Regions from separate parts of the Homo sapiens genome. Here region 1 is linked to region 2. The links come from fine-mapping of genetic effects on gene expression. A gene starts in region 2. The other region holds a variant in brackets. All regions are shown on one strand. Distances are between the middles of the regions.

The links. PIP is the estimated chance that this variant, and not a neighbour inherited with it, causes the effect.
Region 1: its variant is fine-mapped to the expression of EPHX2 in whole blood (INTERVAL, PIP 0.92).

What each region holds. Positions count from the first base shown.
Region 1 is chr8:27,541,762-27,553,443 of GRCh38, reverse strand. It overlaps EPHX2 (epoxide hydrolase 2), which reads right to left. Exons shown (of 19, transcript NM_001979.6): 17 at 9,615-9,695; 18 at 9,200-9,258; 19 at 7,880-9,000. The coding sequence ends at 8,922. Among named protein-coding and RNA genes, the nearest start is that of EPHX2, 56 kb to the right of the region's middle. The variant C/T (reference allele first, on the strand shown) is at 6,836.
Region 2 is chr8:27,486,659-27,498,340 of GRCh38, reverse strand. It overlaps EPHX2 (epoxide hydrolase 2), which reads right to left and starts at 7,198. Exons shown (of 19, transcript NM_001979.6): 1 at 7,032-7,198. The coding sequence starts at 7,132. RefSeq lists a silencer at 7,115-7,394 and a cis regulatory region at 9,141-9,455.

The sequences.
Region 1 (11,682 bases), 55 kb before region 2:
AATGACAGGATCAAATTCACACATAACAATATTAACTTTAAATGTAAATGGACTAAACGCTCCAATTAAAAGACACAGACTGGCAAATTGGATAAAGAGTCAAGACCCATCAGTGTGCTGTATTCAGGAAACCCATCTCACGTGCAGAGACACACATAGGCTCAAAATAAAAGGATGGAGGAAGATCTACCAAGCAAATGGAAAACAAAAAAAGGCAGGGGTTGCAATCCTAGTCTCTGATAAAACAGACTTTAAACCAACAAACATCAAAAGAGACAAAGAAGGCCATTACATAATGGTAAAGGGATCAATTCAACAAGAAGAGCTAACTATCCTAAATATATATGCACCCAATACAGGAGCACCCAGATTCATAAAGCAAGTCCTGAGTGACCTACAAAGAGACTTAGACTCCCACACATTAATAATGGGAGACTTTAACACCCCACTGTCAACATTAGACAGATCAATGAGACAGAAAGTCAACAAGGATACCCAGGAATTGAACTCAGCTCTGCACCAAGCGGACCTAATAGACATCTACAGAACTCTCCACCCCAAATCAACAGAATATACATTTTTTTCAGCACCACACCACACCTATTCCAAAATTGACCACATACTTGAAAGTAAAGCTCTCCTCAGCAAATGTAAAAGAACAGAAATTATAACAAACTATCTCTCAGACCACAGTGCAATCAAACTAGAACTCAGGATTAAGAATCTCACTCAAAACTGCTCAACTACATGGAAACTGAACAACCTGCTCCTGAATGACTACTGGGTACATAACGAAATGAAGGCAGAAATAAAGATGTTCTTTGAAATCAACGAGAACAAAGACACAACATACCAGAATCTCTGGGACGCATTCAAAGCAGTGTGTAGAGGGAAATTTATAGCACTAAATGCCCACAAGAGAAAGCAGGAAAGATCCAAAATTGACACCCTAACATCACAATTAAAAGAACTAGAAAAGCAAGAGCAAACAAATGCAAAAGCTAGCAGAAGGCAAGAAGTAACTAAAATCAGAGCAGAACTGAAGGAAATAGAGACACAAAAAACCCTTCAAAAAATTAATGAATCCAGGAGCTGGTTTTTTGAAAGGATCAACAAAATTGATAGACCGCTAGCAAGACTAATAAAGAAAAAAAGAGAGAAGAATCAAATAGATGCAATAAAAAATGATAAAGGGGATGTCACCACTGATCCCACAGAAATACAAACTACCATCAGAGAATACTACAAACACCTCTACGCAAATAAACTAGAAAATCTAGAAGAAATGGATAAATTCCTTGACACATACATCTCCCAAGACTAAACCAGGAAGAAGTTGAATCTCTGAATAGACCAATAACAGGCTCTGAAATTGTGGCAATAATCAATAGCTTACCAACCAAAAAGAGTCCAGGACCAGATAGATTCACAGCTGAATTCTACCAGAGGTACAAGGAGGAACTGGTACCATTCCTTCTGAAACTATTCCAATCAATAGAAAAAGAGGGAATCCTCCCTAACTCATTTTATGAGGCCAGCATCATCCTGATACCAAAGCCGGGCAGAGACACAACCAAAAAAGAGAATTTTAGACCAATATCCTTCATGAACATTGATGCAAAAATCCTCAATAAAATACTGGCAAACCAAGTCCAGCAGCACATCAAAAAGCTGATCCACCATGATCAAGTGGGCTTCATCCCTGGGATGCAAGGCTGGTTCAATATATGCAAATCAATAAATGTAATCCAGCATATAAACAGAACCAAAGACAAAAACCACATGATTATCTCAATAGATGCACAAAGGCCTTTGACAAAATTCAACAACTCTTCATGCTAAAAATTCTCAATAAATTAGGTACTGATGGGACATATTTCAAAATAATAAGAGCTATCTATGACAAACCCACAGCCAATATCATACTGAATGGGCAAAAACTGGAAGCATTCCCTTTGAAAACTGGCACAAGACAGGGATGCCCTCTCTCACCACTCCTATTCAACATAGTGTTGGAAGTTCTGGCCAGGGAAATTAGGCAGGAGAAGGAAATAAAGGGTATTCAATTAGGGAAAGAGGAAGTCAAATTGTCCCTGTTTGCAGATGACATGATCCTATATCTAGAAAACCCCATTGTCTCAGCCCAAAATCTCCTTAAGCTGATAAGCAACTTCAGCAAAGTCTCAGGATACAAAATCAATGTACACAAATCACGAGCATTCTTATACACCAACAACAGACTGTAAACAGAGAGCCAAATCATGAGTGAACTCCCATTCACAATTGCTTCAAAGAGAATAAAATACCTAGGAATCCAACTTACAAGGGATGTGAAGGACCTCTTCAAGGAGAACTACAAACCACTGCTCAAGGAAATAAAAGAGGATACAAACAAATGGAAGAACATTCCATGCTCACGGGTAGGAAGAATCAATATCGTGAAAATGGCCATACTGCCCAAGGTAATTTACAGATTCAATGCCATCCCCATCAAGCTACCAATGATTTTCTTCACAGAATTGGAAAAAACTACTTTAAAGTTCATATGGAACCAAAAAAGAGCCCGCATCGCCAAGTCAATCCTAAGCCAAAAGAACAAAGCTGGGGGCATCACACTACCTGACTTCAAACTATACTACAAGGCTACAGTAACCAAAACAGCATGGTACTGGTACCAAAACAGAGATATAGATCAATGGAACAGAACAGAGCCCTCAGAAATAACGCCGCATATCTACAACTATCTGATCTTTGACAAACCTGAGAAAAACAAGCAATGGGGAAAGGATTCCCTATTTAATAAATGGTGCTGGGAAAACTGGCTAGCCATATGTAGAAAGCTGAAACTGGATCCCTTCCTTACACCTTATACAAAAATCAATTCAAGATGGATTAAAGACTTAAACGTTAGACCTAAAACCATAAAAACCCTAGAAGTAAACCTAGGCATTACCATTCAGGACATAGGCATGGGCAAGGACTTCATGTCTAAAACACCAAAAGCAATGGCAACAAAAGCCAAAATTGACAAATGGAATCTAATTAAACTAAAGAGCTTCTACACAGCAAAAGAAACTACCATCAGAGTGAACATGCAACCCACAAAATGCGAGAAAATTTTTGCAACCTACTCATCTGACAAAGGGCTAATATCCAGAATCTACAATGAACTCCTATAAATTTACAAGAAAAAACAAACAACCCCATCAAAAAGTGGGTGAAGGACATGAACAGACACTTCTCAAAAGAAGACATTTATGCAGCCAAAAAACACATGAAAAAAATGCTCACCATCACTGGCCATCAGAGAAATGCAAATCAAAACCACAATGATATACCATCTCACACCAGTTAGAATGGCAATCATTAAAAAGTCAGGAAACAACAGGTGCTGGAGAGGATGTGGAGAAATAGGAACACTTTTACACTGTTGGTGGGACTGTAAACTAGTTCAACCATTGTGGAAGTCAATGTGGCGATTCCTCAGGGATCTAGAACTAGAAATACCATTTGACCCAGCCATCCCATTACTGGGTATATACCCAAAGGACTATAAATCATGCTGCTATAAAGACACATGCACACGTATGTTTATTGCGGCATTATTCACAATAGCAAAGACTTGGAACCAACCCAAATGTCCAACAATGATAGACTGGATTAAGAAAATGTGGCACACAGACACCATGGAATACTATGCAGCCATCAAAAATGATAAGTTCATGTCCTTTGTAGGGACATGGATGAAATTGGAAATCATTATTCTCAGTAAACTATCGCAAGAACAAAAAACCAAACACCGCATATTCTCACTCATAGGTGGGAATTGAACAATGAGAACACATGGACACAGGAAGGGGAACATCACACTCTGGGGACTATTGTGGGTGGGGGGAGAGGGGAGGAATAGCATTGGGAGATATACCTAATGCTAGATGACGAGTTAGTGGGTGCAGCACACCAGCATGGCACATGTATACATACATATGTAACTAACCTGCACATTGTGCACATGTACCCTAAAACTTAAAGTATAATAATAATAAATAAATTTAAAAAAAGGAAAGATATTCAACATCACTAATCATTAGGGAAATTCAAATAAAACCATCATGGGACATCACATGGCCATTCTATATATTAAAAAAACAGAAAATGGAAACCAGCTATGGAAAACCATCTGGTGGTTCTTCAAAATATTAAACATAGAAATTACAATATAATCTAGCCATTCCATTTTTTGATATATACCCAAAAGGACTGAATTCAGAGCCCTAAAGAGATATGTGTACACTGATGCTCAGAGCATTATTCATAATAGCCAAAATATGGAAGCCATCCAAGTGCCCATTGCTGAATGAGTAGGTAAACAAAACGTGGTCTATACATACAATGGAATATTATTTGGCCTTAAAAAGAAAGAAAATTCCAACACATGCGACAACATGAATGAACCTCGAGGACATTAGGCTATTTATTTATTTATAGAGATGGAATTTCCCTCTTGTCGCCCAGGCTGGAGTGCAATGGCATGATCTTGGTTCACTGCAACCTCCGCCTCTGGGTTCAAGCGATTCTTCTGCCTCAGCCTCCCAAGTAGCAGAGATTACAGGTGCCCACCACCACACCTAGCTAATTTTGTATTTGTAGTAGAGATGGGGTTTTGCCATATTAGCTGGGCTGGTCTTGAACCCCTGACCTCAGGTGATCCGCCCGCCTCGGCCTCCCAAATTGCTGGGATTACAGATGTGAGCCACCATGCCCGATCAAATTTTAATTATTTTAACTTGAAACTAATGCATTTGTCCATTCATCCATTTGTGCATATACTCTCCAATTTATTCAGCAAACGTCTAATGAGCATTTTACATATGCCAGGCCAGTGCTGGGTTGGGTTTCAGGACGAATTACTTAGACAGGCAGCCCCCGATCTCAGGGCCCTCACAGTCTAACAGGGAGACAGACAGTTACACATTTGGGTGCAGGAGTTGACACTTTACAATTGCTCAGGCAAGAAAGTATTTTATCATTTGTGGCCAGATGGAGTCCTTTGAACAGTGAGGCATAATATTTGTCACCCAATTCCTGTTGGAAAAAAACCCTTTGAGCCTCTGACCTAGATATTTTAACCATTGTTTGCTTTTAATTTGTATTGATGGTAATGTGGCTGTGAACGACACGGAAACTGGTGGACAGTCATGTCAAGGTCTAAAACCGTGGGTTCCCTATACCCCAAGACAGACAGAAATAGCTTTTTGTCCTGTCTAGTCTAATAGACTCACTTTTTAGAAGACGGGTCTCCTGGAAACCTTGGATGTTGCTAATTGACAGCCACTAAGTGGTCCTTCCTTGACAGAATATGTGAGTGATCTCAGCCTCCTCCCGGGAGCAGCACAACCCACTGCTGGAGGGTGTGAGAGAGAATATGAAGACTGCTGGACCTCTTTTTTAAGGGCCGATTTCTTTTAGCAGAGGGGAATATACTTGTAATCTATTCCCTTTGTAATCATGAAATAAAAATAACATATTTTTACTATTCAGCCACAAAAAAAGAATGAAATCTTGTCTCTCGCAGCAACGCGGATGGAAATGGAGAGCATTCTGTTAAGTGAAATAAGCCAGAAACAGAAAGTGAAACACCACATGTTCTCACTCACATGCAGAAGCTAAAAAAAAATTCATTTCCTAGAAGTAAAAAGTAGAATGGAGGATAGGAGGCTGGGAAGGGTTGGGGAAGAGGTGGGGGATAGGGAGGGATTTAAGGAATGTCAAATTCCAGCTAGATGGGAGGAGTAAGTTCTAGCGTTGTATAGCACTGAGCAATGACTACAGTCAACAATGATACATTGTTTTAAATAGCCAGAAGGAGGTTATTAAATGTCCTCAATACAAAAACGATAAATGTTTGAGATGACATGTGTAATTACCCTGATCTGATTGCTACACATTATATGTATCAAAACATCACTATGTACCCCATGAATATGTACTAGTATGTTAATTACAAATTAAATTCAATCCCAAAATATAGCATTTTATAATTAAATCATTTTGAACACACTCCTTGCCATTTGTACTTAAAATGGCATCTGAAAATCTTCCCTGATTGTTCCAGGGAATGCCCTGATACCACCACTGCAACAGTTGACGTGTGGCCCAAAGGTCCTCAAAGCAGACCAGGAAACATAGCCCTGGACATTCCACTATCTTCTTGAAAAACCTAAAGACCTCTTCCAGTCCACTGTCCTTTATGGCCCTTGATACGGTTTGGATTTCTGTCCCCACCCAAATCTCACGTCAAATTGTAATCCACGATGTTGGAAGTGGGGCCTGGTGGGCAGTGACTGGATCTTGGGGGCGGATTTCCCCCTTGCTGTTCTCGTGATGGTGAGTTCCCATGAGATCTGGTTGTTTATAAAAGTGTGTAGCACCTCCCCCTTCTCTTTCTCTCTCCCTCCTGTTCTAGACACGTAGGATGTGCCTGCTTCCCCTTCACCGTCTGCCATGATTGTAAGTTTTCTGGAGCCTCCCCAGCCATGCTTTCTGTAAAGCCTGCAGAACCGTGAGCCAATTAAACCTCTTTTCTTTATAAAGTAGCCAGTCTCCAGTAGTTCGTTATGGCAATGGGAGAACAGACCGATACAGCCCTCAATCTTGTATAACCAGTTATATTTTCTGGCAATGCTATGGAATGGAGTTATTCAACTCTTACTTGCCAAAGGAGCAGAATTTCTGAGGCCTTTTTGATGGCTGATGGAGATGACTGGATAGAATATTAAAAGCGAGACTTTCGGGAAGACAGGTTTGCTGTTTGTGCTCCTTCCAGTAAAGGACG[C/T]TTTTAGGTTTTGATTATTTCCTTTCCCCCAACTGCTCCCTTACAAATGAGCTTGAATACACCCAGTTAGGAAAATAATGTGATCTGGTGTAAGCCTTTCCCCCAGTCCTCATGATTGCCTTTAAATTAGCCCTTTAATTCTCAGATGCAAAAGATTGAGATGGTGGTGGCATGGCTGGAAATGGAAAGCCCTTAGAGGTCTTGTCCTAAGACAAACTGGAAATCTTATAGCTGATACTTCCATAGCACTTCCTCCATGCCAAGCACTGTTCTAGAACTCTGTGCATATTATTAACATACTTGATACAACCACCCATGAGTTAGGTCCTACTAACGTCCCCTTTTTTATAGATGAGGGAACTGGGGCACAGATATCCTTTTTCAAGGTCACAAGGCGAGTATGCAGCTGACCGGAGGCCTAACCTAGGTGGTCTGGCTCCAGATTTAGAAAGGAGAACTTCTCTTTTTTTTTTTTTTTTTGAGTCGGAGTCTCAATCTGTTGCCCAGGCTGGAGTGCAGTGGCGCGACGAGAACATTTTTTTGTAGAAAAAGCTCAGCCTTAGGAGCCAGAAAGCCTGCTTCTGAATCCAGGCTCTGCCCCCATCTAGCCAAGCAGTCCTGGGCAAATTATCTGAACCTCAGTTTCCCTCTCGGTTAAATGGGAAGGACTCTCTGGAAGGATCAGAGGTGGTGCATGGAAGACTCCAGGTGCACTAGGGCAGTGAAGAAATGCCAGCAGCCTCCATTTCAAACCTCTCCTGGCTTTCTCCCTATACACAGATACTCAGGCTCTTGTGACCTGGCCAACTCATGCCCGTCATCATGCCAAACTCAGCTTGGAGGGACCACTTTCTCTCGCAAGCAGCGAGGCCATTGTGCGTGCATCTGTGAGCCCGATAACCATGCAAGGGGGGCAGGCAGAAAGGGCTCGGAACCCAGCCTATGGGCTTGGAGGAGGTGGCAGGAGGAATATTCCAGGCAAAGAATGGGTAAGTTAGGCAGAGGGTCAAGGAGGATCAGCACCTGCAAGTGTGCTGCTGGAGGGCGGTTAGGAATTGGAGGGTGATGGGGCCGGGCTGGGGGTGGGCAGGGGCAGTTGGGGGAGGCCCTGCGAGTTTCAGGATCCAACCATGTGGGCGGCAAGACCCGTGAGGAGGCTGCTGCTCCAGGACTCTGGGGCTGGAAGCAGGGCAGGGGAGAGACCACTGCAGGAGACACATCAGTGAGATGGGAGCCTAACCGGATGTGACAGGAGGCAGGAGAGGGTAGAGGGGAAGATAGGGAGGAGGGGGCAGAGGGGAAGATGAGCTGGATCTGCCTGAGCCTCATGGCAGCTGCTGCTATTTAACTTTAAACTGATTACAATTCAATGAAATTTAAAATTCTCTTCCTCAGCCTCACTAGCACATTTCAAATGCTCCAGGTGCACATTTGTGCCTGAGCAAACTCTGCTAGGGAAGCCGGGAGAAAGGCAGGTGGCTACCTGTGGCCAGTGACTGCTCTAGGGGACAGAGCACAAGACACCACTGCCATCCCCATAGGATTGTCTCCTGGCCAGCACGGCCTAGATCATACAGCACCTTGGAGCCCAGAACAGGGCTCAAAAGCAGAGGGAAAGGGTTCATCCCCATGCCGTGCATTCTCCGTGAACAGTCACTCCACCTCTCCAAGAACAAAGACAGCCAGCAGCATAGTCATCTTAGCTTTATTGAGTAAGGCATCCCAATCTCTGCTAAGATTCTTCTAAATGAACGGCTGATTTTTCTGCCAAACTATGCATTGGTCAAAGAGAAATCACCACCTGGCCACCCCATTCTGTCCCCCTACAGGACACTAAGGGTTCTTACAGATAAAGGGACGATGCATTCATGCCTGGAGAACTAATCACACCTGATTTCTCTGGGATCTAAAATAATGTCAAATTTGATTCACTTTATGTAAAGAAAATCTTTTTTTTCTGCAAACCCCTTCAGAACAATGCTGCCATCCATGCAAGATGTGTGTAAGGCCACCTCTGTATACTAAGAATGGTGCCCCAGCAGGTGGAAGGATGGCACACCTGCTGAGCGTGGGCACACGCTGCGTTCTACATCTTTGAGACCACCGGTGGGTTCCGGGCATCAGAATCCAGCCACTTAATGAGGATCTGATTCACCTCGGTTGGCCTGGGGGAAAGGGAGAAGTAAAAGAAAAAAATAGCCATTCACACTTGTCTGCACCTACCCAGCCAACTCGAAGGCAGAGGTGAGTGACATGAGTGGCTAAGCCAGGCCAAAGCCAGCACAATGAAACCAGGAAAGCTTTTATGGAAGGTGAACGGGGGGCCCTGCTCTCCCCGACCCCAGGAGCCCCCAACCTCCTTACTTGTCCATCTGTGTCCAGTGCCCACAGTCCTCAATGTGTCCCCTTTTCAGGTGGGGAATCTGAAAGGAAACCCCAGGCAGAAAGGTAAATGGAAGAAGGCAGATGGGTGTGTCTCTAGCTAGTGCAATGGGCAATGGACGCCTTCTCTCTGCTCCCCGCAGGCCACCCTGCCCAAACCCTGCATGATTTAGGAAGGGAATAATGAATGAATGAGACCCCACATCCATGCAGGGGAAAGGAAGGTACAGTCACGGTTGCTGCTTGCAATGGGGGGACAGTGATGTTACTGATGATGTGCTTCAACCATGGTCCTATCCACATGACAAGGTGTATCTTCTGCTGCCGTCTTCCCTCTGAGCACCCGTGCCCTCTCCCGGGGTGCACTGATGACCCTTGTACAGGGCCATTCCCTCACCCAGTCCTCCATGTGCTGGGACATCTGAGGAACGAGCACGAAGTCCTTCTCCGCCGTGACCATCAGGGCCGGAATCAGGATCTGGGGGGAGAACAGGAAACAGAAGTGGCCAGCACTCCACAAAGGAAGCCCTCCCTCCTCCTCTGAAAGACCCCTGCTCGCCACCCTGCTGTGGTCCTGACGTTGTATCTGCCGAACTTTGCACAACAGACTCGTGGTTATTACTGGAGATCTTTAAAATAACAGCTTCAGCAGTGCAGAGGCCAATATGGGTCTTATGTGTGCAGATGTGTGTGAGTGAGAACGTGTGCTGAGCTGCATGTAACTGGGAGAACCGAATTGATGGCACCAAGAAGGCAGAAGACACCCTTGAATGAAGATCAAGATTCCTCTTCCCTGAATTAAATAGATGCTTAAAAGGGGCGACCAAGGTTCCAGAGAAAATGGGGGCAGCCACAGTAGTAATCAATGTGACATGAATGGCAGCAAAGTAACTTCCAATTGCTGGCAAATGAGTTGAACACAGGGAGGCATGCACAGGAAGGCCAGGAAAGCCTCTGTGTTTTTTCCTTTGTTCTCGCTCCACCATTACCCTAATTTCCAAGCAGCTTTGACCCATCCCTGGTTGAGGAACGTGCACTATTTTCATTTACACCCAGAGTGATGGGCATCTCTCCACACCCCTCCCTCCTCCCACAACCAGGAGCCAGGAGAAGGTCAAAAATGATTTTGTGGCTAAAACGAATCCTGAGGCTTCTATGAGGTTTGTAAACTCTAGAAAGTTCCAAGCTAAAATGTGAACTGGGCGGGGGGCGGGGGGGGGAGAGGATGGGATGGGAGGAGGTGGGGGAGGAGAGAGGAAGATCCAGCTGGAAACTGCAGAAGAGAGGCTGGGTGCAGTGGCTCACGCCTGTCATCCCAGCACTTTGGGAGGCCGAGGTGGGTGGATCGCCTGAGCTCAGGAGTTTGAGACCACCCTGCGCAACATGGTGAAGCCCCATCTCTACTAAAACACAAAAAATTCGCTGGGTGTGGTGGCGCACTCCTGTAATTCCAGCTGCTTGGGAGGCTGAGGCAGGAGAATTGCTTGAACCCAGGGGGCAGAGGTTGCAGTGAACCGAGATCGTGCCATTGCATTCTAGCCTGGGCAACTGAGCAAGACTGTCTCAAAAAATAAACTGCAGAAGAGGAGGGTTTCTGACCTTAGCACCATTGGGATTCACCTTCCCAGCGCCTTTGTCAATATTTTCCTCCACGCTTTGAGAGATTTTGTCTGTCCAACTGCAGTTTGGTCATTTTCATCGGTCATATGATGATAATGACAAGGAACACTAATGGAGCTAATAGGTTCCCAGTACTGCTTGTAACAGGTCACATGCCTTCAACCATTTCATCCTTACACAGCTCTGTGAGGGAGGCACTGTTCTTGCCACTTGCATATTGCAGAAGAAGCCACAGTGGATCAGAGGGGTTAAGTACCTTTCCCAGGGTCACACAGGGATTAGACTCAGCCCATGTGCTTCCTAGCCTGCTCTTAACCACGATGTTATATACTCTAGTGCCTCAAGACTTAATTTTGGGAGGTCAAGACCTGGTCTGTTTACACACCATGGTATCCCAGGGTCTGGCAGGAAGTCTGGCATGTAGCAGTGTGTTCACTTACAGAGTGAACCAACAAGGTAACCATGGCTACTGAGTGAGCTGATGAAGGCCTAGCTACCTGTGCAGTCACACTGGGGAACAGATTTCCCTTAGATTTTTAAACATTTTGAATGTAAACTGGGAACCTCCATTACTCCTTCTGCAGACCCAGAGATTGGAAACTCATCTTCTGCTTGACAAATGAGGAAACTGAGACTCAGAGATTGACTTGTGCAAGGTGACACAACCGAAGGCTAAAGTCACATCTCTGAGAGCACCTAACGCTCCTCTGGGCTGGGGGCTCCAGTATCCATGTCACTTCTGGGAGGTGCCCCAGGCCATCTGCAGCCCTGCCTTGGGGTACCACCAGGGGACCTGGGGATTCCGGATGGATGCTGCAGTTCCCTGGACACACCCCAGCTCCATC
Region 2 (11,682 bases):
TCCTCTTCCTGTTAATGATAAGCCTCCTCTAATCTCCCCCACTCAGAAGGAAACAAGCAAAGAAATCTCCAAGGGACCATAAAACCCCCGGGCTATCGGTTATGTCCCCTTCAAGCTGTAGGGGGAGGGGAATTTGGCCCAACCTGGGTATATATCCCCTTCTCCCTCTCTGATTTAAAGCAGATCAAGGTAGACCTGGGGAAGTTTTCAGATGATACTGATAGGTATATAGATGTCCTACAGGGTCTAGGGCAAACCTTCGACCTCACTTAGAGAGATGTCATGCTATTGTTAGATCAAACCCTGCCCTTTAATGAAAAGAATGCGGCTTTAGCTGCAGCCTGAGAGTTTGGTATCTTAGTCAAGTAAATGGTATCTTAGTCAAGTAAATGACAGAATGACAGCCAAAGAAAGGGACAAATCCCTACCGGTCAACAAGCCGTCCCCAGTATGGATCTCCACTGGGACCTAGACTCAGATCATGGGGACTGGAGTCGCAAACATCCGTTGACCTGTCTTCCAGAAGGACTAAGGAGAATTAGGAAAAAGCCCATGAATTATTCAATGATGTCCACCATAACTCAGGAAAAGGTAGAAAATCCTACTGCCTTCCTTGAGCGGCTACAGGAGGCCTTAAGAAAATATACTCCCCTGTCACCTGACTCCCTCGAGGGTCAATTGATTCTAAAAGATAAGTTTATTACCCAATCAGCCGCAGATATCAGGAAAAAGCTCCAAAAGCTATCCCTGGGCCCTGAACAAAATTTGGAGGCATAATTAAACCTGGCAACCTTGGTGTTCTACAATAGGGACCAAGAGGAACAGGCCAAAAAGGAAAAGTGAGATAAGAGAAAGGCCGCAGCCTTAGTCATGTCCCTCACACAAACAAACCTTGGTGGTTCAGAGAAGACAGAAAACAGAGCAGGCCAATCACCCAGTAGGGCTTGTTATCAGTGTGCTTTGCAAGGACACTTTAAAAAAGATTGTCCAACAAGAAACAAGCTGCCCCCTCACCCATGTCCACTATGCCAAGGCAATCACTGGAAGGCACACTGCCCCAGAGGACAAAGGTTCTCTGGGCCAGAAGCCCCCAACCGGATGATCCAACAACAGGACTGAGGGTGCCCAGGGCAAGTGACAGCTCATGTCATCACCCTGACTGAGCCCCAGGTAAGTTTAACCATTGAGGGCCAGGAAATTGACTTCCTCCTGGACACTGGTGCAGACTTCTCAGTGTTAATCTCCTACCCCAGATGGCTGTCCTCAAGGTCTGTTACCATCCAAGGAATCCTGGGACAGCCTGTAACCAGCTATTTTTCCCACCTTCTCAGTTGTAATTGGGAGACTTTGCTCTTTTCACACACCTTTCTTGTTGTGCCTGAAAGTTCCACACCCTTATTAGGGAGGGACATATTAGCCAAAGCTAGAGATATTATCTCTATAAATATGGGGAACAAGTTACCCATTTGTTGTCCCCTACTTGAGGAGGGAATCAACCCTGAAGTCTGGGCATTGAAAGGACAATTCGGAAGGGCAAAAAATGCCTGCCCAGTCCAAATCAGGTTAAAGACCCCACCACTTTTCCTTATCAAAGGCAATATCCCTTAAGGCCTGAAGCTCATAAAGGATTACATGATATTTTTAGACATTTAAAAGTTCAAGGCTTAGTAAGAAAATGCAGCAGTCCCTGCAACACCCCAATTCCAGGAGTACAAAAACCGAACGTTCAGTGGAGACTAGTACAAGATTTTAGACTCATCAGTGAGGCAGTAATTCCTCTATATCCAGCTATACCCAACCCCTATACCCTGCTCTCTCAAATACCAGAGGAAGCAGAATGGTTCATTGTTCTGGACCTCAAGGATGCCTTCCTCTGCATTCTCCTGCACTCTGACTCCAAGGTTCTCTTTGCCTTTGAGGATCCCACAGACCACACGTCCCAACTTTCGTGGATGGTCTTGCCTCAAGGGTTTAGGGATAGCCTTCATCTGTTTGGTCAGGCACTGGCCCAAGATCTAGGCCACTTCTCAAGTACAGGCACTCTGGTCCTTCAGTATGTGGATGATTTACTTATGGTTACCAGTTCAAAAGCCTCATGCCAGCAGGCTACTCTAGCTCTCTTGAACTTTCTAGCTAATCAAGGGTACATGGCATCTAAACTGAAGGCCCAGCTCTGCCTACAAGTCAAATATCTAGGCCTAATCTTAGCCAGAGGAACCAGGGCTCTAAGCAAAGAATGAATACAGCCTATACTGGCTTGTCCTTGCCCTAAGACATTAAAACAGTTGTGGGGGTTCCTTGGGATCACCAGCTTTTGCCGACTATGGATCCCCAGATACAGCGAGATGGCCAGGCCACTCTATGCTCTAATCAAGGAGACCCAGAGGGCAAACACTAATCTAGTAGAATGGGAACCAGAGGCAGAAACAGCCTCCAAAACCTTAAAGCAGGCCCTAGTACAAGCTCCAGCTTTAAGCCTTCCCAAAGGACAAGACTTCTCTTTATACATCACAGAGAGAGCAGGAATAGCTCTTGGAGTCCTTACTCAGACTCGTGGGACAACCCCACAACCAGTGGCATACCTAAGTAAGGAAACTGATGTAGTGGCAAAAGGCTGGCCTTACTGTTTATGGGTAGTTGCAGCAGTGGCCATCTTAGTATCGGAGGCTATCAAAATAATACAAAGAAAGGATCTCACTGTCTGGACTACTAATGATGTAAATGGCATACTAGGTGCCAAAGGAAATTTATGGCTGTCAGACAACTGCCTGCTTAGATACCAGGCGCTTGTGTGTGGCCCTGAACCCTGCCACTTTTCTCTCAGAGGATGGGGAACCAATCGAGCATGAATGCCAACAAATTGTAGCCCAGACTTATGCTGCCCGAGATGATCTCTTAGAAGTCCCCTTAGCTAATCCTGACCTTAACCTATATACCAATGGAAGTTCATTTGTGGAGAATGGGATATGAAGGGCAGGTTATACCATAGTTAGTGATGTAACAGTACTTGAAAGTAAGCCTCTTTCCCCAGGGACCTGCACCCAGTTAGCAGAACTAGTGGTGCTTACCTGAGCCTTAGAACTGGGAAAGAAAAAAAAATAAATGTGTATACAGATAACAAGTATGCTTATCTAATCCTACATGCCCAATGCTGCAATATGGAAAGGGGGTTCCTAACCTCCAGGGGAACCCCCATTAAATACCACAAGGAAATCATGGAGTTATTGCACGCAGTGCAAAAACCCAAAGAGGTGGCAGTCTTACACTGCCAAAGCCATCAAAAGGTGAAGGAGAAAAGGCAGAAGAAAACCATTAGGCAGACACTGAGGCCAAAATTGCTGCCAGGTGGAACCTCCCATTAGAAATACCTACGGAAGGACCCTTGGTATGGAACAACCCTCTCCAAGAGATTAAGCCCCAGTATTCCCCAACCGAAACAGAATGAGGACTTTCATGGGGGCATAGTTTTCTCCCCTCCAGGTGGTTAACAACAGAAGAGGGAAAGGTACTCATGCCCGAAGCCAGCCAGTGGAAAATACTTAAGACCCTCCACCAAACTTTTCATATGGGTATTGAGAACACTCATCAAATGGCCAAATCCCTATTTACAGGGCCAAATCTCCTTCAGACCATCCAACAAGTAGTCAAAGCCTGTGAGGTGTGCCAAAGGAATAATCCCTTGGTCCATCATAAGGCCCCTCTGGGGGAACAAAGAATAGGGCACTATCTAGGAGAAGACTGGCAGTTAGACTTCGCCCATATGCCTAAGTCAAGGGGATTTCAATACTTGTTGGTCTGTGTTGATACCTTTGCAAATTGGATGAAGCCTTGTCCTGCAAGACAGAGAAGGCTCAAGAAGTGGTTAAAGTCCTAATTCATGAAGTAATTCCTAGATTTGGGCTTCCCCAAAGCTTACAAAGTGACAATGGTCTGGCTTTTAAAGCCATGGTAACTCAGGGAGTTTCCAGGGCACTAGAGATACAATATCACCTTCACTGTGCCTGGAGGCCACAATCCTCAGGAAAAGCCCATACAAGACCTTGTGACCACGAATACCGAATACCATCTTAACTTTCCAAGCCCTTTTATGCATCCAACACAACCTGTTATCAGGCCTGCCCCTGGGGCACCTACTATCCCATCAGTGTAATTACACCCTATAACTTCAAGCCCCAACTGATCATAGTAACTCCTGAGTCACCCAAACACCTCCATTCAGATGGCTTGTCTGCTTCTCAGGGCCCCCCAAAATCATCACCTCCTCCCTGTTTAACAAACAGTCTGGGTTTTGTAATGGCAAACATACTCCCTGCATGACCATTCACCCCTGGACCCCCTGCAGCAGCGCCCCCACCACTAGTGTATGTCTTCTTATCCCCTCTTTCAATTACTCTCTTGGATGGTTCCTAGTAGATACAAAACGGTTTTTTCTCCAATGGGAAAATAGAGCACAGGGAGCCACTCAGTCTGCTCCCAACACCCTTTCCAGCTGCTCACCAGAGCTACCTTGGCAAGTACTCTAGGAGTGTGGGAAAATGAAAACAAACTCACACACCTTTTTAACATACACAACCAGTTTATTCTACCCAGCCAAGGCATATTCTTCTTATGTGGAACTTCAACCTATATCTGCCTCCCACCAGCTGGACAGGCACCTGCACCTTCTCCTAAGTCCCAACACTAACAATGCCACAGGAAATCAGACCCTATCAGTGCCCCTCAAAGCTCAAGTCTGTCAGCCCAGGACCATACAACTAATACCCCTACTTATAGGGCTAGGAATGCCCACTGCTACAGGAACCAGAATAGCCAGTTTAACTACTTCATTATCCTACTACCATACACTCTCAAAGGATTTCTCAGACAGTTTGCAATAAATAAATCTATCCTTACTCTACAATCCCAAATAGACTATTTGGCAACAGTGACTCTCCAAAACCGCTAAGGTCTAGACCTCCTCACTGCTGAGAAAGGAGGACTTTGCACCTTCTTAGGGGAGGAGTGTTGTTTTTAAACTAACCAGTCAGGGATAGTACAGGATGCTGCCTGGCATTTACAGGAAAAGGCTTCTGAAACCAGACAACACCTTTCAAATTCTTATACCAACCTCTGGAGTTGGGTGACTTGGCTTCTCCCCTTTCTAGGTCCCGTGACAGCCATCTTGCTATTACTCACCTTCAGTCCCTGTATTTTTAACCTCCTCCTCAAATTTGTTTCCTCCAGGATCAAGGCCATCAAGCTACAGATGGTCTTACAAATGGAACCCCAAATGAGCTTAACTCACAACTTCTACCGAGGACTGCTAGACTGACCCACTGGCCCTTTGACTGGCCTAGAGAGTTCCCCTCTGGAGGACACTACAACGGCAGGGCCCCTTCTTTGCCCCTATCCAGCAGGAAGTAGCTAGAGTGGTCATCACCCAGTTCCCAGTAGCAGGTGGGGTGTCCTGTTATGAGGGAGGATTGAGAGGTGAGGCCAGCTGGACTTCCTAGGTCGAGTGGGGACTTGGGGAACTTTCCTGTCTTACAAGAGAATTGTAAAATGCACCAATCAGCGCTCTGTAAAACGCACAATCAGCAGCATTCTAAAAGTAGCCAATCACGGGGAGGATTGAAAAAAGGGCACTCTGATAGGACAGAAATGGAACATGGGAGAGGACAATAAGGGAATAAAAGCTGGCCACCCCAGCCAGTAGCGGCAACCTGCTGGGGTCCCCTTCCATGCTGTGGAAGCTTTGTGCTTTCGCTGTTCACGATAAACCTTGCTATCACTCACTCTTTGGGTCTGCGCCATCTTTACGAGTGTAACACTCACTGCGAAGGTCCACAGCTCCATTCTTGAAGTCAGCAAGACCACGAACCCACCGACAGGAACCAACTCTGGACACAACTATAGCCTCCAACTCCTGGGCTCAGGCAATCCTTCTGCCTTAGCCTCCCAAGTAGCTGGGGCTACATGCATGCACTAATGTCTAGCTAATTTTATTTTTATTTTTGGAGAGACAGGGTCTTGCTCTTTCACCCAGGCTGGTCTTGAACTCTCAGCCTCAAGTGATCCTCCCACCTTAGCTTCCCAAAGCACAGAGATTACATGCCTTTCCCTCAAGCTACTTGCCATCTCATCTTCCTTACTATATTAAAAGCAAAGGCTCCGGACATGGACTACTGGGGTTGGATTTCTGGCTCTGCTCTTTAACAGCTATGTGATTTGGACAGCTGGTTTCTTTCTGTGCCTCAGTTTCCTCATATGTAAAAGGAGGATATGAACAATGGCTTCCATGCCTGGCCTTCTTTTTCACTTTATAAATAAGTATACTTCTCTCCTTTCTGAATGTGGGAATAATACATTGTTTATAAATTTAGAAGTTGGAAACTACAAAAAAAAAAAACACAAAAAAAAGAGAGAGAGAAAGAAAATCATTACATTATTCCTAATCTCATTTGATGTACTTTGGCCTATTTCTTTCAGGCACTTTTCTGCATGTACCTTTTTTCCATAGCTGAAACCATATTGTATAAATAGCTTCAGATTCTGGTGGGGTGGTTTTTTCATGTAGTAGAACAGGTGTTTTCCCAAGTCCCTGAGCTCTCACTCTGCACACCCCATCTACCATTTCCCAGTGATGTGGCTTTGGGCGGTTGCTGCAGTTTGCTATTACACAAGTAAGCATGCAACCCACACCTGGGGAGAGAACTTTCTTCTCTCCTGAATCTCGGCTCGCATCTTTAAGCGCCACCCCATTAGACAGGAGGCAGCAGAAGCACAAAGCTCCATGAGTAACTCCTCTCCCTTTTGGAAAAGTTCACAGAAAGCAATTTTGGAGACCTTGGCAACGTTTAATTATGAACATTTAGAAAGACAACGGATCTCCTCATATGCACTGGGACTTCAGGGCCAGGTCTTCAGTTTCATGATTCGCATGATTCGCAGGGCTCCGGCACAGGAGCAATCTGAAAGCTGGGCTGCAAGCCCAGCGCGGTCTGCCTCCTGAGGCCCCGACCCACTGCGGCGGCGGCGCTGGGCCCCCTTACCTGGGCAGCGCCAGGGCCTCCTCCGTGCGGCCGAGGACGCCGAACACCGCTGGCAGCGCCAGCACCCCGTCAAGGTCGAAGACGGCCGCGCGCAGCGTCATGGCGGCGGGTCTGCAGCCTAGCACCCGGACACGCAGCTAACCTGGGAGATGCGCGAAGGCCAGGGCGCATGACCCGCCCAGCTTGGCCCGGCTCTGCCCCGCCCCTGCCCTGGCCCCGCCTCCTCCCCACACCCCCTTAACGGGACTCCGCCCTCTGCCCGGGTTAAGGCTGGACTCTGGCCGGGAAAGAGGCAGGGGGAGGGGCACAGGAAAGGGAGTCAGAGGGAGAGGAAGAGGAGGCCGGGAAGGCGGGGACCCCAGGCTAGAATCTCGCCTCTGGATGTAACGCTTTCTACTGTCTCAAAGGAAAGTCCAAAGTCTCTTATGCCCCCTCCCCACGCCCCTGCAGTAGCTGCTTGAAGAGGCAAACCCAGGCCCGGGCCTTCCTGGACGGACTGACAGCTCCCTGCGAACTTGCTGGACTTGGAATGCCTGGGAAAGAGGCCACAGACTCTGTGTGTGTGTGTGTGTGTGTGTGTGTGTGTGTGTGTGTGTGTGTGTGTGTGTGTCAGCACATCCAGTGACTTCTACATTCAGAACATAAGACCGTGTTGGGGGGCGGGGGAGGGGCATATCCAGTGACTTTTCTAGATTCAGAACGAAGGATCACAGATCCCTCACTATCCTGACCACTCCTCTAGGCACGCTCTTCTTTGCCAAGGCAAATGTGTTTCTAGAATAAAATATGATGTTCCAGCTATCGTGTGCCAGCCCAGAATACTTCGATTTCAATCTCTTGTGGAATGAAGCTTAGAAGAACTAAATGTAGGCTATTATTTTCCTTTTGTACATGCTACTTGTAATAATTCTGTCTTAAAATGTGCGAGGTTTGTTTTTAATCACCGATTTCCACACTATTGGCTCGTTTATGTTCCTAGAAAAACTAAAACTTTGGCTGGGAGTTCTTGAGCTGTTGTAGTGCAGCTCCATGAATTAAAAACCGTGTCTTTGGTGGAGACCAAACAGAGTGAGTGAGGTCTCCAACAGTGGAGAATTTACTCTTGAATGTGTCTCTGTGGATTTATCCAAGATACCCTCCACCACGGAGCTTCAAGAACCTTGTGAGGGGTTGTCAGATACCTCACTGTAACTGGGAGGTCTACAACAGTCTCTGGATCTAGCAATCAACAACAGGATTGACCAGAGCCGTGGGTTTCCTCTGGGCTGTTTGCCCTTAGCAAGCTATGCTGTTGCTTCCTTCTCTAGCTTGGTAACCTCTTCCAGGCTCCTGCCTGGAGCAGTTATTAGTGTTTTCTGAGATTCTTGCCAAAGAAGCAGAGAGTGGCCAACACTGCCAAATGTTACAGGAAGAACTGAAAAAAAAGCTGTCCAATTTTGGACTTGGATGACACCGGATGTTTCAGAACACTTTTTGTGGGCCCTTTATGGTAGAAACTGGATTACTCTGGATTTGAAGACTGAAAGATAGGCAGAGAAGGGAGTACAGCAAGCTAGTTTCTCATGAAGTTAGTTGATCTCAAAGGTATAATTGAATTTTAAAAAATAGAAAGAAAATTGCAGCCTGACCTATATAGTATGAAACCTGTTAAATCTCCAGATTGGGCATGGTGGCACACACCTGTAATCCCAGCACTTTGGGGCTGAGGTGGGAGAATTGCTTGAGGCCAGGAGTTTGAGACAAGCCTGGGCAACAAAGCAAGACATTCTCTCTATAAAAAATAAAAATAAAATATTAGCTAGGCATGGTGGTGCATGCCAGTAGTCTCTGCTATTCAGGAGGCTGAGGTGGGACGATCACTTTAGCCCAGGAAGTGGAGGCTGCAGTGAGCCATGATTGTGCCACTGCACTCCATCCAGCCTGGGTGACACAGCAAGACTCTACCTCCAAAAAAAAAAAAGAAAGAAATTAAATCTCCAACTTAGAGTTTCCTTTGGGCTCCAGACTTGCCAACTTCTTACTCAACATCTTACTCAACGTCAATATCCAACTTCTTACTGAACATCTTCTCTTGAGTGTCTAACAGGCATCTCAAATTTATCATGGCTAAAACAGAACTCTCTCTGCATTTCTACTTCCCACGCCTGTTCCTCCTAGTGTGTTCCCTATCTTACAAACTGGCATCCCCATTGACTCAGTGGCTCAGTCCCGAGACCACGGAGTTGCTTCCAGATCCTTGGCTCCCAGCCAAACCATATGTTCGTGTTTCTAGCGGTGGCCTGCTGATTGAGGCAGAGATAGCAGCTTCTAGTTCTATGGTGGTGTTTTCTGGGAGTCCTTCCTAAAGGCTCAGTCTGGAGCTCACTCCTCCATTCCGTTCAAAGATTGTGTAGGCTTGCAGTCTCTCATCTTAAATCCCTTTCTTCTGTTTCTATTTAAAATAACTACAGTGATTTCTGTTGCCTGCATCTGAATTCTGCATCTAGCACAGTATTGCTTATGAATACGTAAGTATATTTATACAAGCAGTAAAGTGTAGAGGAACGACATACCTACAGAACTAGATTTCATAAAGCCCCCTTTTGAGAAGAAAAATTTAAAAACATAGAAATATGAGTTTTACTTTCCTCTTTGGTTAAGAGAAAGCCATGAAGCTATCACATGGACTTTTATTTATTCAGGAGCAGTTAACTTGTAAATAGCTCTGGTGTGGAATATTTTTATAATGCCTTGTGAGTTACAGAGCTTTCTGGCTGAATTGCTTAGGCAAAGATTAAAGGTCTCAATTGCATTTCACTGCACTTTGCCCTTTTTCATGGTCGTGCTTCTCCTGTGTTTTCTGCTACTAAGGTACAGAGAGATAAGGGCTTACCCAGCAGGGCTATGGGAACTGGGTGGCTTTTTGAAATGTAAATCCTAACCCCTATGTCTTCTAATTTTAATATTTATGAAATATGTTTTAGGTGATAGCATGAATCATAAAAGATGGCTAATGTAGTAGTGAAAATTTATAAATTACACCTGATTTCAATCACTAAATTCATAATGAATGTACACTGACCTCATTAAGGTTTATTTTGGGTTTTCTGCCATTCCTGTGCCTTCTGCAACTTCCTGCTAGTCCTTGATTGTCAAACCCTATTTTATAAAATCTGTTTAACCACTAGGGGTTGGGAGGGAGGACTTTACACTGCTGCTTCTCTCTACTGTAGATACTCATGGAGTTCAAAGTAAAGCTACCTCTGGCAGTTTTCTAAACCTACAAACCACTTGAAGTTTTGTCTTTTTTTCAATGCGGCAAATGAACGAGCGTCTTTCATTCCATCAGCAAATATGTATCAAGCATCTTCTATGTGCCAGGCACTGTTCTAGGCACTTGGGATCAATTGTTAAATAAATCAGACAAATATAGGGGCCGTCAAGGATCTTCCATTTTAGTGGAATAATGAATTCAAATGGTAGTGGCTGGTGGCTTCTGGAGCAGTGAGAAGAATGAGATTGGGAATAGTGGTGGTGGCTACTTGCCGTTTTTCTTATTTGTCATTTTCCAGCTTCCTAACATCTATAACCTTTTCTTACATACAGAAAATTCCAGCCGGGCATGGTGGCTCACACCTGTAATCACAGCACTTTGGGAGGCTGAGGTGGGTGGATCACCTGAGGTTAAGAGTTGGAGACCAGCCTGGCCAACATGGGGAAACCCCGTCTCTATTAAAAATACGAAACTTATCTGGGCGTGGTGGCACACACCTGTAATCCCAGCTACTTGGGAAGCTGAAGCAGGAGAATTGCTTGAACCCGGGAGGCAGAGGTTGCAGTAAGCCAAGATCATGCCACTGCACTCGCAGCCTGGGCAACAGAGCAAGACTCTGTCAAAAGAAAGAAAAGAAAAGAGAAGAGAAGAGAAGAGAAAAGAGAAGAGAAGAGAAGAGAAGAGAAGAGAAGAGAAGAGTAGAGTAGAGAAGAAGAGAAAATTCCATCTGGCAGTGATGAAGTTCTGCTTCAGAGATACACAACATCCTTTCAACATCTTCTATTTTGATAGTTCTCACTGTTTGAGAACTACTACTGTTTTGAGTTCTACCTTCTCACAGTAGAATCCACAAACAACATGTTGCCCAGGCTTCCTTAATGCTGGCCAGGTGCACGGGCTCTGCCAATTGGGCATACTCGCCAGGGATTTGGGAATGGGGATGGGCAGCCCAAAGCCACAGCTGTGTGAGCGGGAACTTTCTTTCAGCGAAGGCAGAAGCAGCAGCATCTAGTTTTTCTGGGGAGGCTGTGATGGAGCTTCTCTGGTCTGGTCCTGAGTGTACTTGGTGCCCACGCTGGGGCAGAGTGGTGGCTTTGTTAAAATTGCACCAAGGGGTGGCCTGCGGTCACTGTGCTGTTCTTGGCTATATAGTTTCCAAAGCTGCATCTCTTGTCCTCCCTGAGATTCTGTGTGTTAATGTCCTATAATAAGAACCTTTCTGCTTATATGACCGAGAGGAAGCTCTGTAGTTTGTAATAAAAACCCTATAACGCATACCGGCCTTATGAATGTTGATAGAAGGAAGAACCGCATTGACTGCAGAATTTGGAAATGCCCTGTGCCCACTCCCCAGCCTGCCTGGAAGTGAGAGTGAAGGCCTGTGAGCTCCATTCAGCA